2 separate regions of the Homo sapiens genome follow, and region 2 is linked to region 1. Evidence: fine-mapped expression QTL. Tissue or cell type: testis. Region 1 holds a variant in brackets; the other region holds the start of a gene. All regions are shown on one strand. Distances are from middle to middle.

The links. PIP is the estimated chance that this variant, and not a neighbour inherited with it, causes the effect.
Region 2: CIMIP6 starts here. The variant in region 1 is fine-mapped to the expression of CIMIP6 in testis (GTEx, PIP 0.97).

Annotation. Positions count from the first base shown.
Region 1 is chr2:54,352,201-54,360,387 of GRCh38, reverse strand. It overlaps CIMIP6 (ciliary microtubule inner protein 6), which reads right to left. Exons shown (of 5, transcript NM_001100396.2): 4 at 1,314-1,429; 5 at 1-185. Among named protein-coding and RNA genes, the nearest start is that of CIMIP6, 25 kb to the right of the region's middle. The variant T/G (reference allele first, on the strand shown) is at 3,560.
Region 2 is chr2:54,326,654-54,334,840 of GRCh38, reverse strand. It overlaps CIMIP6 (ciliary microtubule inner protein 6), which reads right to left and starts at 3,957. Exons shown (of 5, transcript NM_001100396.2): 1 at 3,840-3,957; 2 at 1-24. The coding sequence starts at 3,865.

The DNA of each region.
Region 1 (8,187 bases):
TCCTGAGAATTTTGTTGGCAGAGACCTGGTGAGATCATTCTGCTTTCCGCTGAGTTTCCTTTCTCTGTTTTTTTGGACTGTTCTGATGAACGTGACCCTGGAGTGTTCAGTAATACCTCTGCTCCTTTAGGAACTGTTGGCCTACTGCCTGGTTTTATCTCTCTCTGTACAAAAGCTCCGTGTCTCTGGAAAAGAAAACAAAGTCGACATTAACCAGGAGAACGCAGATTGCTGGAAGATGCAGCTGTGAACTGAATTTGTGCGTTAGCTCAAGTCCTAGTCAGTGATGCAGGCACTTCTCTGCCTCTTCATTGGTGTCACCTCAGTCCCAAACTAGACACCACCATATATGGGTGAACCTTTTAAATTATAAAATAGGGTGCATCAGAAAATGAACAGGAAGGAAAAAGGCAGAATGTCAAAGAAGTAGCAGCTCATCTCCCATTCTCAACTTTTTTATCATTTGGACTGTTTAAGACTATTCACATCAAATTTCATTTCTTGCTCTAAAGATTGCTATGGATACAACAAAAACTACAGTTCATAGACCTAAGAATTTATGATTGCATCCCAAATGCCTATTAACGCTGATGAAAAGCTAAGTAATAATAAAATATGAAAGCAAACATCTATAGTTGGAAAAAAATCCAATAATTGACAATTACATTTCTATTTGGCTTTATAAACCTTACATGCATCTCCCTGCCACACACATGTATTAAGCATATCAAAACATTTGTCAAACTGCTTTGATATTATTACTATTATTATTATTATTATTATTATTATTGTTATTAGAAATGAGACTTGCTATGTTGCCCAGGCTGGCCTCAAACTCAAGTGATCCTCCTACCTCAGCTTCCAGAGTAGCTGGGACTACAGGCGTCAAGTCACTGTGCCCAGCATGCTTTGATATTATTTTACACAAATTATTTCAATAATTTAAGTAGACCAAATTCCAAAGACTGATTCAAATTATTATGTTTGGATTGATTGATTGAGATGAGGTTTCATTGTGTCACCCAGGCTGGAATGCAGTGGTGCAATTACGGCTCACTGCAGCCTCGAACTCCTGGGCTCAAGCAACTCTCCCACCTCACCCACCTGAGTAGCTGGGACTACAGGTGGCACCACCATACCAGGATAGTATTATTCCTTACATTTTACTATGGTATGTGGCTAACATTCTATCCTATTAATAACTGAAGTAGTTTGTTTAAATAGACAGAAAGATAATTATGACTTGAAAAAGCTTAAAGTTCTACAAATCTACTCTGTCTTAAAGTATTAAATAATTCTAAATACTGCCTCACCTTTCCCTGGAGAGGCTCATTCGGAGTTTTTCTGGCATCATATTGATGTATAAAAGAGATGTATTCTATAAAATTGTTTTGAAGTTCTGCTGATGTACCAGGAGAGGCAAGTGGTACTAAAAAAAAGATTTTGTGAAGTCAGGACAAAAAATTAGATTTGTTTATGGACATATAATCAGTATTAATAATATAAAATATGGTAACAAAACTAAATTCTTGAAGTATGCAAGATTATTTACACAATCTAAATAATAAATAGAATGGATTCACCATTCTTTCTTCATGAAAAGAGCCAAATCAAAACAACCAAATTAGCCCCACGTGTGGAATTATTAGTAATTTTTAAAACTAAAATTAATATTAATACAACAATATGGTCAGGCATGGTGGCTCATTCCTGTAATCCCAGCATGCCCTGGGAGGAGGCCAAGACAGGAGGATTGCTTGAGCCCAGGAGTTTGAGGACTAGCCTGGGGAACATGGTGAAACCCCATCTCTACAAAAAATAAGCCAGGCGTGGTGGCATGTGCCTATAATCCCAGCTGTTTGGAAGGCTGAGGTGGGAGGATCGCTTGAGCCCAAAAGTTCAAGGCTGCAGTGAGCCATGACTGCACCACTGTGCTTCAGCCTGGGCGAAAGAGAGATCTTGTCTCATTAAGGAAAAAAAAAAAAATTGTTAGATATGCTTTTTACACAGATACCAATACATTTTAGGGAAAACATAACTATAATTTGTTAACTTTTCACGACTAGAAAGAGTATGAGAAATTCTATGTTGAATCTATAGTTTGGCCAGTGGCTGTGGCCACAGGGTAGAAATTGTATGCCGAAGCTAGCACTAATGGAATTGGAAGACTCTAGGGCTGCTGCAGTTGTAGTTGAACACATAATTCTTTTCATTTCGCCCAATAACAGGGGTTCTGAAAAATTTGCAAGAGTATGAAATCCTTTAAAAATCACTTCTAAATAATCTTTCAATCTGGGTGATGAGTATATGAGTTCATTATATTGGTCTGTGCTCCATGTATGTTTAACATCTTAAATAATTTTTAAAACTCAGTTTTACTTTCAGCAGAGAAGGTTATTTAAAGATCAGAGCAACTTTCAGTACTGTTGCTGGCAATAAAAAAAGTTTAGTGAAGTAAAATTCTATCAAGGACAAAAATTTCTCCCTTAAAAAATATGTATGTGGCTGGGCGCAGTAGCCCACGCCTGTAATCCCAGCACTTTGGGAGGCAGAGGCAGGCAGATCACAAGGTCAAGAGATCGAGACCATCCTGGCCAACATGGTGAAAACCCCGTCTCTACTAAAAATACAAAAAAAAAAAAAATTAGCTGGGCGTGGTGGTGAACGCCTATAGTCCCAGCTACTCAGGAGGGTGAGGCTGGAGAATCACTTGAACCTGGGAGGCAGAGGTTCCAGTGAGCCAAAATCGCGCCACTGCACTCCAGCCTGGGTGACAGAGCAAGACTGTGTCTCAAAAAAAAAAAAAAAAAGTACGTAAGAGTTTATGTACAACGAACATATCTGTGAAATGCTATGTAACAAACTGGTAACAGTGGTGACTGTAGGGAAAGAGAACTGGGTGACTGGAGGACAGAGGTGGGGAGAAGTAGATTCAGTTTTCACTGTATATCTTTTTGTACCATTTGAATTTTGTGCCATATGCTTATATCAACTGTTAAAAAATAAAATTTAACTTTTAAAAATCACACCTTTAAAATTAGAGGAATACATAAGAAAAAATGTTAGTAAATTTACATGTATTAAGCATTCATGAATTCACTTTGATATTCAGACATTGTTATAAACTAATTTTATTAGCAAGCATGACTAATATTCAAATACTTATACATTACATGTTACAAAATGGCAATCTTTTCCCAGTTAGCAGTATAAAAAAAGTTAACTGTTAACATTTTCTTGATTTCTAATTGCAATCAACTGCTCAAAACTCATTTTCTACTTAATCATTACCTTTCTTTTAGAACTTGCTAGAAAACAGAAAACAGTAGTGCAAAGATTTAATAAGCATGACACTGAGAAAATTCTATCTATAATTTATATTTTTTTCCACCAAGTGGGAAAAGATGACCATTTTTTTTATGAATATCATGGTCCAACTCACAGAACATTAGTATGTGCGGACACAGTTTCATAACTTCGTGTATAGACAGAATGAAGCGGCTCTAAATTTAGGCATTAATTAGGTGGTGGTAATGAAGTATCCAAAGCATGCATTTGG[T/G]AATAAAATAGACATGTTTTCAAATTCTGGCTTTACCACATTTCCTAGTTGTGTGACTTTGAAATAAATCACTGAACTTCATTGAAATTCTATTTCCTCCTCTCTAAAATGAAGAAAACAATAATTTGCTTTTTGAATTGTGAAAATTAAGGGCAGTGTTTGTGAAGTCTCTAGGATGCTAGGGTCAAATTATGGAGTCTTCAAAGTTAGCAAAGGGCCAGCTCTTTTGTATCTTGACAAAAGGGGAAACCATGGAAGGGAAAAGGAAGCAGGAACCGGAGCTACCAAAAAAAAACTGTGAGAAACCCAAAGGCTTTAGTGAACTGGTACGAAGGGTTGGTGGCAATTTGGACTGGAGGGTAGGAAGGTCAGATGTAGCCAAGAAGAATAAGTTGTGGGAGAGCTTTTAAAATCTGCTCTTGACTTTCCCTCACATTGCCTTGGGAAGATCATGCTTGCCCAGGGCCACAGAAACTGGCAGCAACTGCCTAGCCAGTTGTTGTCAATACAGTAATAGCAGAAGCGCGCAGAAGTCCCTCCAGGATAACGAGCTGATGAAAATGGGTACATGTTGCCCCCTTGGGCATTTCTTCCTCCAACATTCCCCCAGCAACCGTCAATGCTGGTGAATTAAAAACATCAAGATACTGACTTATCTCAGTGATGCCTTTTTTTTTTTTTTTTTAACAGTTTAAGGGTGGTAGGGTGGATTCCTGACTACATGACCAGCCTAGTAGAGTGACAGTAATTAACAATGGTCTAAATAGGTTTTGTGATACCAGAAGCTCTCTGGCCTGAGCCTCATTTTCTTTCCTCAAATTTAGTGGGAGACATACAAACCAGACCCTGGTCTTCAGCCTTTGTCTGCACAGGCCTACTGATTCCCCTAGGGGAATATGATCTACCATAAATTTGACCATAAAAGAAAATTTTAAAACATATACTGTGTGAAGGAGAATTATCAGAACCAATATACCAAGAATTTAAAATAAGCATAACAAATATCCTCAAAGATACAGAACAAAGTATTGTTAATACGAACAAGAACAGGTCATAAAAAGGAATAACAAAAAATGTTAGAAATAAAAAATATAACAGTTGAAACAAAAAAATACATGGTCTAGACAACAAGAATCATGAACTAGAAAATCAGACTGAGAAGCTGTCCCAGAAGGCAGCAGGAAAGGATAAAGAAATAAAGAAAAGCTCAGAGACATGGAAGGTGGAAGTATCAACACCAGAACTAAGAAGAAATAGAGGGAAGGGAAGGAAATATTTGAGAAAATGATGATGATATATATCCAAGAATTAAAGAAAGCTCAAACACCTCAGATTGAAAGAGCTCACAGAATACCAAACAGGTAGCAGGGGCAGGAGAAAAATGAGGCAATGAGACACAAAGGATGCAAAACTTTAAGGAGGCACTTGCATGACCCTGGGAGTGAGTGCCTCCTTAAATTTTACACCCTAGTTGGGTTTCTCACTCTCCTCTCGATCTTGCAGTACAGATAAAGGAAAAACTCGCATCTAAGACATTTAATAGAGAAATTTAACATCATCTGGGACAAAGAAAAATTATAAATGCTTTCAAAGAGGTAAATTATGAAGGAGTAACAACAGGTTAATATCAAATTTCTCAATAGCAACATTGGACACAAGATAATTAATTTTTTTAATATTAAAAGGAAAAGCACTTTAAGCCTAGAGTTTTTATATCCAACCAAATTTTCATTTAACTGTGAAGCCAAAATTTCAAAAACATGGGAAGGAAAGGAAGGCCTCAGATGATTTCCCCCCAAAACAGACCTACTTTGAAAAACTAGAGGAAGAATTCAAGACTAGAAATAAATCAAAGAGGATGTCTGATATATAAGGAAGAAAATAACAAAAATTTTTGTTTCCTGAAAAAGATAAGGATTAAAGAACAGAAAATTCTAAGTATTATACCTGTAAAAACTCAGAACTAAAATTCTATTGTTTAACATTAATGGAGCCCCTGGTGAATACTATAAAAAAGAAAAAAGTAGTACAATGATTACAAAGGAGGAAAAAAAAAGTAATTGTAGGTAATATAATTACCTGAATAGAAAAACCACAAGAGTCCATCAATTATGAGAATAAGAGTATGGCAAAGTAAACAGACATCGGATAAATGTATAAAAATCAAAAATCAAGAGCATTTCTCTACAATAGTGATAACCTACTAGAAGATATAATGAAAAATAACATATATTCTTAGTAGAAACAGAAACTATATAGTATGAAGTTTCTAGAAATTAAAAAAGCATTCACAAGATCTCTATAGAGAAAAAATTTAAATTCTGTTAAAGACCTAAAAGTAGAACTGAATAGACATTCTATGCTCTTGAATAGGATGATAGCATTTTATTATAATGGTGACTTTTTCCTAAATTAATATATAATGTCACCACAACCTAATCAAAATTCTAGCTGGATATTTTGAGCAATGTCATACATTTCAATGTTTAAATAGAAAAATAAATCCCATAAATCAGCTCTGAAGGAAGGGTGAATAATTGAGACTTTCCATATCAGATATTAAGACCAGCTAAAAATCCATATAATTAAAATATTTTGGTACTGATCCAGGAACTGAAAATTAACCTGAGTAACGTAACAGAGAGCTTGCAGACAAACTCATTTATATATGGAATCTTAACATAAAATTAAGGAGGTCCTATAAGTAAATGGGAAAAGTGCAGATTATTTTATAAATGGTTTTCAGAAAAGTGGTTCACTCTATGCTGGAAAGTGGAATTGATTCCCTACTTAATAGTGCGCGCATGGTGGACTCTAAGATTAAAGACCTAATTATGGAAGGTAAAAGTATAAAATCAAGATAAGAAAATGTAGGAGAAAACTTTCTTTACCTAAGGGTAGGAAAAACCCTTCTTAAAACAGCCAGTACACAACCCATAAGGTAAAAACTTGATTATATTAAAAAACATAGGAGAACTGCTCGATGAAAGACACCATGGGCAAAGCTAATAGAGATGGCAGATTGGAAGGAGATATTTGTAACGTGGGAACTAATGGGACAGAACATCAGTGGTAATTTCAGAGTTAAGGACCTTTGAAAAAGCTGCTCCTCCACAAAAGCAATGAATACACTGGCAAAAGTCATCAAAATCAACTTTTTTAGAACTCTGGAGATTAACGAAAGGCATGCAATAATCTAAGGAGCATTTATTCAAGAAAAATGGCTTAATCTTCATAATAAAAGCAAGTTTGATGACATTTTAACTCATGCAGTTTCCCCCTCCCCCCACTCCCAATCTCCCCTCTGCAGAAGCCTTGAAAACCAAGAGCCCTGCAATTATGATGAAAACCAGAAGCCTATCAACTACTGGAAGAAGCGGAAGGGGTTTGGAGTGTCTCACAAATACCAACTCAAGAGAACTGTCACTATTTAACCTGGCCTGCAGGGTTCGTCTTTATAGACATGACTCAGAGCCCTAAAAGTGAATTATGCACCCCTGCCACCCTGCCCTTGCCTCACCCCACGACCAAGTATTCATCCGAAACAATCAGGGACGGTTGTTTAACATTACAGCTGCCTAAGGTGACAGTAACAGTTGGGGCAAATAAGCTGCCCCAAACTGGAAATGTATATGCTATGCTTTCTATTGGGTTAAAATCAGATGACAGCAATTTCCACATCTGAAAAATCCTCAGACAACAGAGTTTACATCTACCTACTGCAAGGAGATCTACATAAGATGAATTTAAGTTATAGTGATGTTTTAGTAAGTGAACTGCGTAAAGCAAAATCTGTCATCATTAAAAGCCCTCTGGAAGGAGCAGGACAGTGGAGATTTTGTTGGTCAGAGGAGTCGAAATTTCAGTTAGAAAGGAACAGTAAGTTTAAAAGATCTAATGTACAGTTGGTGCTCTCTATCCATAGGTTCTGTATCCACATATTCAACCAACTATGGATTAAAACTTTTCAGGAAAAATAAACCACAAAAATAATACAAATAAAAAACACGATAACAACTATTTGCATGGCATTTACATTGTATTAAGTATTCTAAGTAATCTAGAGATTAAAGTATATGGGAAGATGTGCGTAGGTTATATGCAAATACTACACTACTTTATATAAGGAACTTGAACATCTGTGGATTTTGGTATCCACAGGGGTCCTGAAACCAATCCCCTGGTTACTGAGGGATGACTGTGCAACAAGGTAACCATAGTTAATGTATTGTACTCTTGAAAATTGCTAAAATAATAGATTTTAAGTGTTCTCACCATAAAAATAATGTATGTGAGGTAATAAACATCTTAATTAGCCACTTCACAATGTATATTTCAAAACATCATGTTGTAAGGATGTTTTGTATAGATACAAACAATTTTTGTTTGTCAGTTAACACTGTCTGTAATAATCACAATAATACCTAGCCATGGATCAGATTAAATACAAATAGCATATCAGACAATTTTTCTTATAGTGTAACAAGTAAAGACTGGTTATAGAGTGGCTTCTTTTCAAAACCAATATAAAACAAATTTAATGCTTTACTAATACTCAAAACCAATTTTCTGGGATTTACACACTACTAAAGTAAATGGTTGGTAAACCTTTTTAATTCTGGGAAACT
Region 2 (8,187 bases), 26 kb after region 1:
GCAGCATCCTCTATTTTATGCTGTCTGAAAAACATAAATAGTAAACCATTTACCCCAGTAACCATTAAAATATTGAGTCAAAATTATGTAAAATAAGATTTAAATATACTACAAACAGCAGTCAAGACAATTTAGGCTGTATTAATAGTTATAAGGGTTTGTGCTGTTAAAATTTAGGAGGCCATTTTCTAATTCTAAATCATATAAGCGATAAAGGGCTTTGTGTTAATAATGATTACTCATTATAATATACCAGTGCAGTGCACCAACTCTTATTTGCTTGGAGTAAAGAAAGAGTAGTGATTGGATTATGCTTCCATATCATGTTTGCAGTACTCACGTGTGTGGATAAGTTACACGCTATAGTTAACTCAACTTCTTTAAAAGTTTTATTACCAAGAGAATGGCTTTATTCTCCCGTTTACCTAGTAAACAGCTATCTGGACAAGGATAAACCAATTAATTTTAAAAGTTTGTCTGGCAAACTTAAAGCTACCAAAGGAGCACCATTATTTATCTTTTCAAGAAAAGAACACTATGTGGCAGTCAAAATAAATCTCTTCATTTTTTGCCTCTAGTAAGCACTCTGTTACAAATACGAAAATTACTAAAATAAAATATTTTAAAAATGTATAGGAAGAAACAGCTTATCAGATTTTTCTCCTTTCAAATAAGGAGAAATTGAAATTATAAAAGGCAGTATTTTTAAAATTCACATACTTGAAAAATAAAGAATGAAATATATGAATTTGAATACTTTTTACATAGAAGCTTTTAAAATCAAAGCCATGATCCCACAGCAGGTGAGTCAATGAAACTCCAAATTCACAGAGAAAGCAGGTAGCACCGTTTAATCTTATACACAGCCCTTAAAGTATAACACCTGCCTTCCTCCAAACGAATGCCAGGTCCATCTCTTCTACCACATCATTTTTCTTTTTTTCCTTTTTGAGACGGAGTCTTACTCTGTCCCAGGCAGGAGTGCAGTGGTGCTATCTCCGCTCACTGCAACCTCTGCCTCCCAGGTTCAAGTGATTCTCCTGCCTCAGCCTCCTGAGTAGCTGGGGTTACAGGCGCGCACCACCACGCCCGGCTAATTTTTGTATTTTTTTTTAGTAGAGACAGGGTTTCGTCATGTTGGCCAGGGTGGTCTTTAACTCCTGACCTCAGGTGATCTGCCAGCCTCGGCCTCCCAAAGTGGTGGGATTACAGGCGTGAACCACTGTGCCTCGCCCACATCATTTTGCAGTTAAAACCCTCAAGTAGTTTTCCATTCATTTACAATAAAATACTGCCTCCTAATTGTAGCTCTGAGGTCCTGTGTGACTTGCCCCAGTGAACCTCTTCGACTTCACTCAAGACCCTCCAACCAGACTGCCTTCTGTCAGTTCCAGGGACACATCAATCTCTTTTCCCTCACGGCACCTGCACATGCTGTTCGCTCTGCCTGGACAGCTCTTCCCCAGCTCCCAGCACAGCTGGCTCAGGATATTTAGGTCTCAGCTTAAAACCATCTCCTCAGCAGCTTTTCCTAGATTTCTTTCCTCTACCACATGTATTCTCTATTTTAGTACTTTGTTCATTTCTTTTATTAACACCACAATTTTTTATGTACCTAGTTTTTTGTTTACTTGTTTTTAGTAAGCACTACAAATATCCTTTACTAGTCAATAAGTTCCATGAAGGTGTACATTGTTGAATTCACCATGTGCCCAACATCAGGAAAAGTGTCCTGTTCATCCAAGGTAAATGGACTGCCATTATAACATTTACATATTTCTGGTGAATCTGCTGGAGTTTACTCCAGCTTTGTTTGAATACCCTCAACCACCCCTCCAGTACACATAAAAACAACATTCAGAATCCTTGGATTCTAGTTCCCTGCTTCCCAAAAATTACTTTCTGCAAAGGATTTGGAAAAACTGATTACTGGTAAAGTGTAAAAAACTTCTAAACCTTTTTCTATTACCTTTCCAGAGATACAATTATTTATTTAAAGGTAGAGTCTTTGGGGTCAATTAATTTATTATTGTAGGCTTCTGGCATCAGTTTTTTCCACCTGTTTCTCATAGTTATCACCCAACAATATACACTTGTAGTGATCAAGTCCTTGAAGAAAAGGACTGGGGCTATTTGTTATATAGTTAAATTCATTTGATTAAGCACTTGTGGTATGAATGCCTACGGGTTGATAAATAAGTGTGAAATATATGACTCGAGCAATCTCTTGCCAGAAGAAAAGCACAGATAAAAACACTGATGGGCTCTGAAGTGAGTCAGACAGGGACTGGAATCCCAGTTCTGCCATATCTGAGCCTTTGTCTCATTTGCATGATAGGAACAATACCTATTGTAAGAGATATGAGAATAACATTGAATAATTCATTGTTTCAACAGATATTTATTGAGTTGCGTGCCAGGTGCTGTTGGAGGCACTGATGATAAAGCAGTGACAAAACAAAAATTCCTGCCCTCATAGAGCTTACACTCTAATGGGGAAAGGCGGATGAAAAAGTAAATTATATAGTCTGTTAAGTGCTAAGGACAATAATAAAATAGAGAATGGGAAAAGGGAGTGTATGTATGTAGGAGGTAGGTTTGCATTTTCAGGTAGGGTGGAGGCTGCATTGTGAAGGTGGCAAATGAAAAAAGAGGGGAAGAGAGAGCTAAGTGCATATTTGTGGGAAAAGCATTCTAGCAGAGTGAACTGTAACTGCCAAAGCTTCCCAGCAGAAGTGTAACCATCCTTAGCGCACTGCTTCTAAAAGTATGGGCACTGGAGTAGCAGCATTGGCATCAATTGTGACCTTGTTAGAAATACAAATTTATGGGGCCCATTTCCTTTATGTACCTAGTTTTTTGTTTACTTGTTTTTAGAAAGCACTGCAAACTCAGAATCTCTGGGGCTGGTTCCCAGGAACGTGTTTTAACCAGCTGTTTCGCTGATTCTTATGCACGTTCAAGTGTGAGAACCATTGTTCCAGGGACAAAAATACAGGCTTTGGAAGAGGGTATCCCTGGCTCCACATCATTCCTAACTAGCTGTATGTACTACCTTGATTAATAGTCTCAATTTAAGGTACATCAGAATCACCTGGATGCCTTGGTTGAAGCCAGATTATTGAGCCCCAGCCATAGAGTTTCTGATTCTGTGTGTCTCGGGGGTGGGAAGTCCCCAAAATTTGCATTCCTAACAACCAGGTGCTGCTGATGCTGGTCTTTATCACTGCAGATGATAGCAGAAAGGCCTGTTTGCTGTAGCAGAGTCCTGTCAGAGGGAGGCAAGAAACGGTAAGGGGCGTGTTGTGTAGACTCCATAGGCCATTGGAGGTGCCTTGGCTTTTACTCTACGATGTCGGATGGAGAACGGCGATCTAACCTGGGCTGTAAACGGATAGCTCTGACTGCTGTGTCGAGGAGGCTGCAGAGGGGTAAGGGAAAAGCAAAGCCACCAACTGGAGGGCTGTTGCAGCATCCCGGCAAGAGAAGCTGGTACTTGGGACTGGGTGGGCACAGTACTGAAAGTGATGAGCAGTGGTAGATTCTGGATAATTTTAAAGGTAAAGACTACAGAATCTGCTAATAATTGTGAGAAGGAGTGGATGACTTCAAGAATTTTAGATCCGGTAATGCAAGTCAAGTCCCTGACACACAGTATGTGCTCAGTAAACGGTGCGTTTTAAAAATTATTGTTGTAAGCGCTCAGCCAACTGGAAATTAGAGAAGCAAGGGGGCTGTCTGAGCTTGGCCTGGACTGTCCATGCTGGATCCCGGCCTCCCCCTGAAGGAGGAAAATAGTTTTTGGAAAGGGAAATAAGACACCAAACCCCAGCACTTACTGATGCTTATCTTCCTTTTCCTCCATGGGCCTCTACGGCACCAGGCAGCGAGGAGCCTCCTGGGAAGAACAGGGACGCAGCCCTGCCAGGAAAAGGGTGCGCAAAGCGCGGCGACTGTGACTCGCGCGTTGCTAAGCGACGGGCGCTAGTCCTCGGAAAGGGGCGTGGGGGGAAACTCCTGGAGTGCGCAGGCGCAGTTAAGCCGGGTTGGTGCTGGACTGTTGCTCACTGTGCGCGACTGCGCGGCGAGGAGGGCGGGGGTGCCTGGCCGCGTCTCTAGGCGTGTGGGCTCGACGCCCTGCGTTTGAACTTGCCCTTCCCATTGTAGGGCCAGGAGGGGTGTTTATCAGGACTGATTTGGTCCTTGAGGATAGGGGAAGGGCTGTTTCCGGAGCTGCGGGGCAGCGCTGCTGCCGTCTCCGCCGTGCCCGCCCTCCGGAGCCCGGCAGGTCGTCGTCAAAGCGCTGCCACGGGTCGCCCAAGCTGGCTGCAAAAGTGCGGGCCGGCGGGAAGGATACTTGTTTTCCCTTGTATTGTTAACAATACTGTGCGAGTCGTGATTGGTTGCTCCTGAGCTGCCTAGCCTTTACTCCAGAAAGCTTGGTTGTCACTGTTTTCCACCATTTCTGACAAAACCTTCCCCGGCTGGGCTGCCAGGATTAAAATAGAGCAAGGGAACACTCATCTCCTGCAAATGAGGCTCCCTGCTGTGTGTCATCTGTTGCAGCCTGAGCGGGGTTCAGAATAGGGTAGCTTAGGCAGCGGGTTGGGGCTTGTATGTGTAGCACTTACCCAAAAAGAGCAAGCTCCTGGGAAAAGCCGTTGCTGACTTGCATCCACCTTCTGGCCCTGGAATTTCTTACTTCATTTCACCATTGCCTCCCAATTTCCACTACCAGAGCCAAAAGTCTTTGGCATCTGTCATAGTAACTCACGCATTTCCCTGGATAACGGAAAAAGAAAAGTCCAGAGTTGAATTCTGCCTTATATCAGGCTATGCATACGTATATGTTTGGAATCCAGAGTCAGTGTTCGTGTGTGTGTTTACATTCACCTTGGAGAGTGATGGGAGAGCAGAGGTTGGTCCTAGGACTCATTTTATGTATGTGACCTGAAATCCTATCAGGAAGAAGAATATATGTGTAGATTTGACACCTAGTGACCTAAATACCTGAGTGTGGACTTCGTTGTTAAAGACTGGAGTGTGTGTGAATGTGTCATTGTGTGTGTGTGTGTTTGGTGAGTAAGGAGTGGATGAGTAAATAAATATGGGGCAAGTGGGTTGAAAACCAGAAAGCAGGGGGAACTAATAGCAATTGAGCTTCCACTAGGGGACCAGGCATTTGTTAGGCATTGTATTAAACACCACCTGCTTATCTGGTCTTATCCTAACCATCACACTGTGATTAGGAGCTTAGGGTCTGGGAGCAGTCAGTGTTTGAAACCTGGCTTTACCACTTAACTAGCTAGTTCACTTGGGCAAATGATCTAACCTCTCTGAGCCTCAATTTTTTTCATCCACAAAATGGGGAAAATACCTAGGGTTGTTGTGAGGTGTAGATGATTTAATACAGGCAGAGTACTGAGAACAGGGCCCGATGCTTAGTAAGTGCTTTGCCATTATTTTTATTGATCAACTTGATCTGCTTATGCTGCCACATGTCCTTGAGGGTTAGTCAACTCCCTCATCATTCCCCCTAATTTCTGCTTCAACCTTCACCAATCTCTTCAAGTCCTAAAACCACTTACCCTCAGGAACAATCTCAGGGCTTAAAGAAATGAGGGCATTTTCTCAACTTGATCCTTTCAGACTGACAAGTTCACCTGCATCCGTACAGGATTAGAGTCATTTGCCTCTCTTTTGAGCGGTATGGTATTAGTTTTAAATATATTTATGTCAATCTCTGTTAAGTAGCTTGCATATGTCTAGGACTTATTAAAAGCTATGAGAAACATTTAAAAAAGAAATTGTGGGCTAGGTGCAGTGGCTCACGCCTATAATCCCAGCACTTTGGGAGGCCAAGGCGGGCAGATCGTGAGGTCAGGAGATCGAGACCATCCTGGCTAACACAGTGAAACCCCGTCTCTACTAAAAATACAAAAATTAGCCGGGCGTGGTGGCACGCACCTGTAGTCCTAGCTACTCGGGAGGCTGAGGCAGGAGAATCACTTGAACCCAGGAGGCAGAGGTTGCAGTGAGCCAAGATTGCACCATTGCACTCCAGCCTGGGTGACAGAGCAAGACTCAGTCTCAAAAAAAAAAAAAAAAAAAAGGAAAGAATTTGTGCCAATCACAGGGAAGTCACAATCTAGTTAGAGACATAAGACATACAGTAAAACAAAAAACTGTGACCAAAACATCAATGATACATGAACGCATTATATAACTGATAGACAAAGTATCACATTGCAGTACTGATAGTATAATAATGTGCCAATTATTTATTCCTGGTGCATTCTCTGCAGGGTGCCGCATAAAAGTATGAATTTTATAATAACTTTTGATGTTTTTTATACAGAAAAAACACTGGGCTGCCATTAGTGGTTTTTACTACTAACTAAGCATTGACCTAGGAGAGACACTTAAACCTCTGTGCGCTATAGATTTTGACTTGTAAAAAGATAACTTCATATTGTCTTCATGATCTCTTCCAAATGTAAAATACAGTGATTCTACTGAAAAATTTGTCTGAAAAATCAATGAACACACTAGCTTAAATAATACATGTAATTTTCTAATTTGTGATAGATATTTGGATTCTTGTCAATGAAGAATAATTCAAAGTAGGTACTAATATTATGCAAGTTAAAAATACCGATGCTCTTTGAGCAAGAACACCATATGTGAGGGAACACAATAAGATGGAAATTGCACATCCAAAATGTTATAGATGTAGAAAATTTTCAACATTTTTTTGTAACCATAGGAAAATTCCAGAAGTAAAGAATGGCACAGTTGTATAACCTGATAGGAAAGCTGAGGCTCAGGGAGATCCAGCTTCCTCTCAGTTCTTTTTTCAATGTTGTGCGTGTGATACAGGTGAGGATCTCAAAAATATGGCATAAACAAAAGCTAGTCCTAGTTCTATTTTTAAAAGATAATTTATTTGCCTCATATACATGTGTTGTGAGGATTAAATGAGAAAATACGTTCAGAGAGCTTATCCTGGCACATAGCACTCACTAAGAGTTAGCTGTTAGTCTTCCTATTTTTATAACTAGTAGGGTAGAAGATTCATTAAGTGCATGCATTATGTTGTCTTTGTTTCATTATCTTATACTATAAAAATTTTATCAAACCAGAATATACATGAATTTGAGGATAATGGAAATGAAAAATGGTAGTGTTAGGTCTGCCCATCTTTGAAGATGGATAGGTTCAAATAAATCACAGAAATGAAAGGGACCCTGTGTTTTCCTCTGGTCGAGGTTCAAAGCTAATTGATTTGTAGCATGCTTTTAAGAGAGACATATTACTAAACAAATAAGTATAAATTGTTACATTTCCTAAAGGGTAAAAATCTCTAGTAGAAATCATATAGATCACTTCTGATATAAATAATCCTGGGTATGCCGGGCATGGTGGTCCACACCTGTAATCCCAGCACTTTTGGAGGCCGAGGCAGGCAGATCACCTGAGGTTGGGAGTTCAATACCAGCCTGACCAACATGGTGAAACCCCGTCTGTACTAAAAATACAAAAAATTAGCTGGGCATGGTGGTGGGTCTCTGCAATCCCAGCTACTTTGGAGGCTGAGACAGGAGAATTGCTTGAACCCGGGAGGCAGAGGTCGTGGTGAGCTGAGATTGTGCCACTGCACTCCAGCCTGGGCAACAAGAGTGAAACTCCATCTCAAAAACAAACAAACAAACAAAAAATACAAAACAAATCCTGGATATATGCATGGGTATGTTTATATTCATATAGATATATAAATTAAAATCTTAATTACATGAGATCTCCTGAAAGAATTAAAACAGCCTGAGTTACTACAAAATGATCAGAAATCACTAGTTTGCAAGTTTACCCGATTGAATGAAGAAATTTGTATTTTATGAATTTGGAGGGCTTATATTTTATTAATTTGCCCACCTCTATGATTTCATGACTTAAGGTTTATTTTTAAATAATCCCAAATACGGTTGCCTGTATAAATGTTGCATGACCAAACAAAGGGTGAATGAAAAAGCCTGTCTTAGGTGGAGAAAATAGTGAAGGGACATTTCCATAATGCAGTGGTATTTTAAATAGAGTGGTCATGGGGTGAAGATGGGTTGAATGAATGGCTATGGATATTTAGCTTCTTGAAGAAGGAACATTGCAAAATGAAACATGGCTGGGGTGATA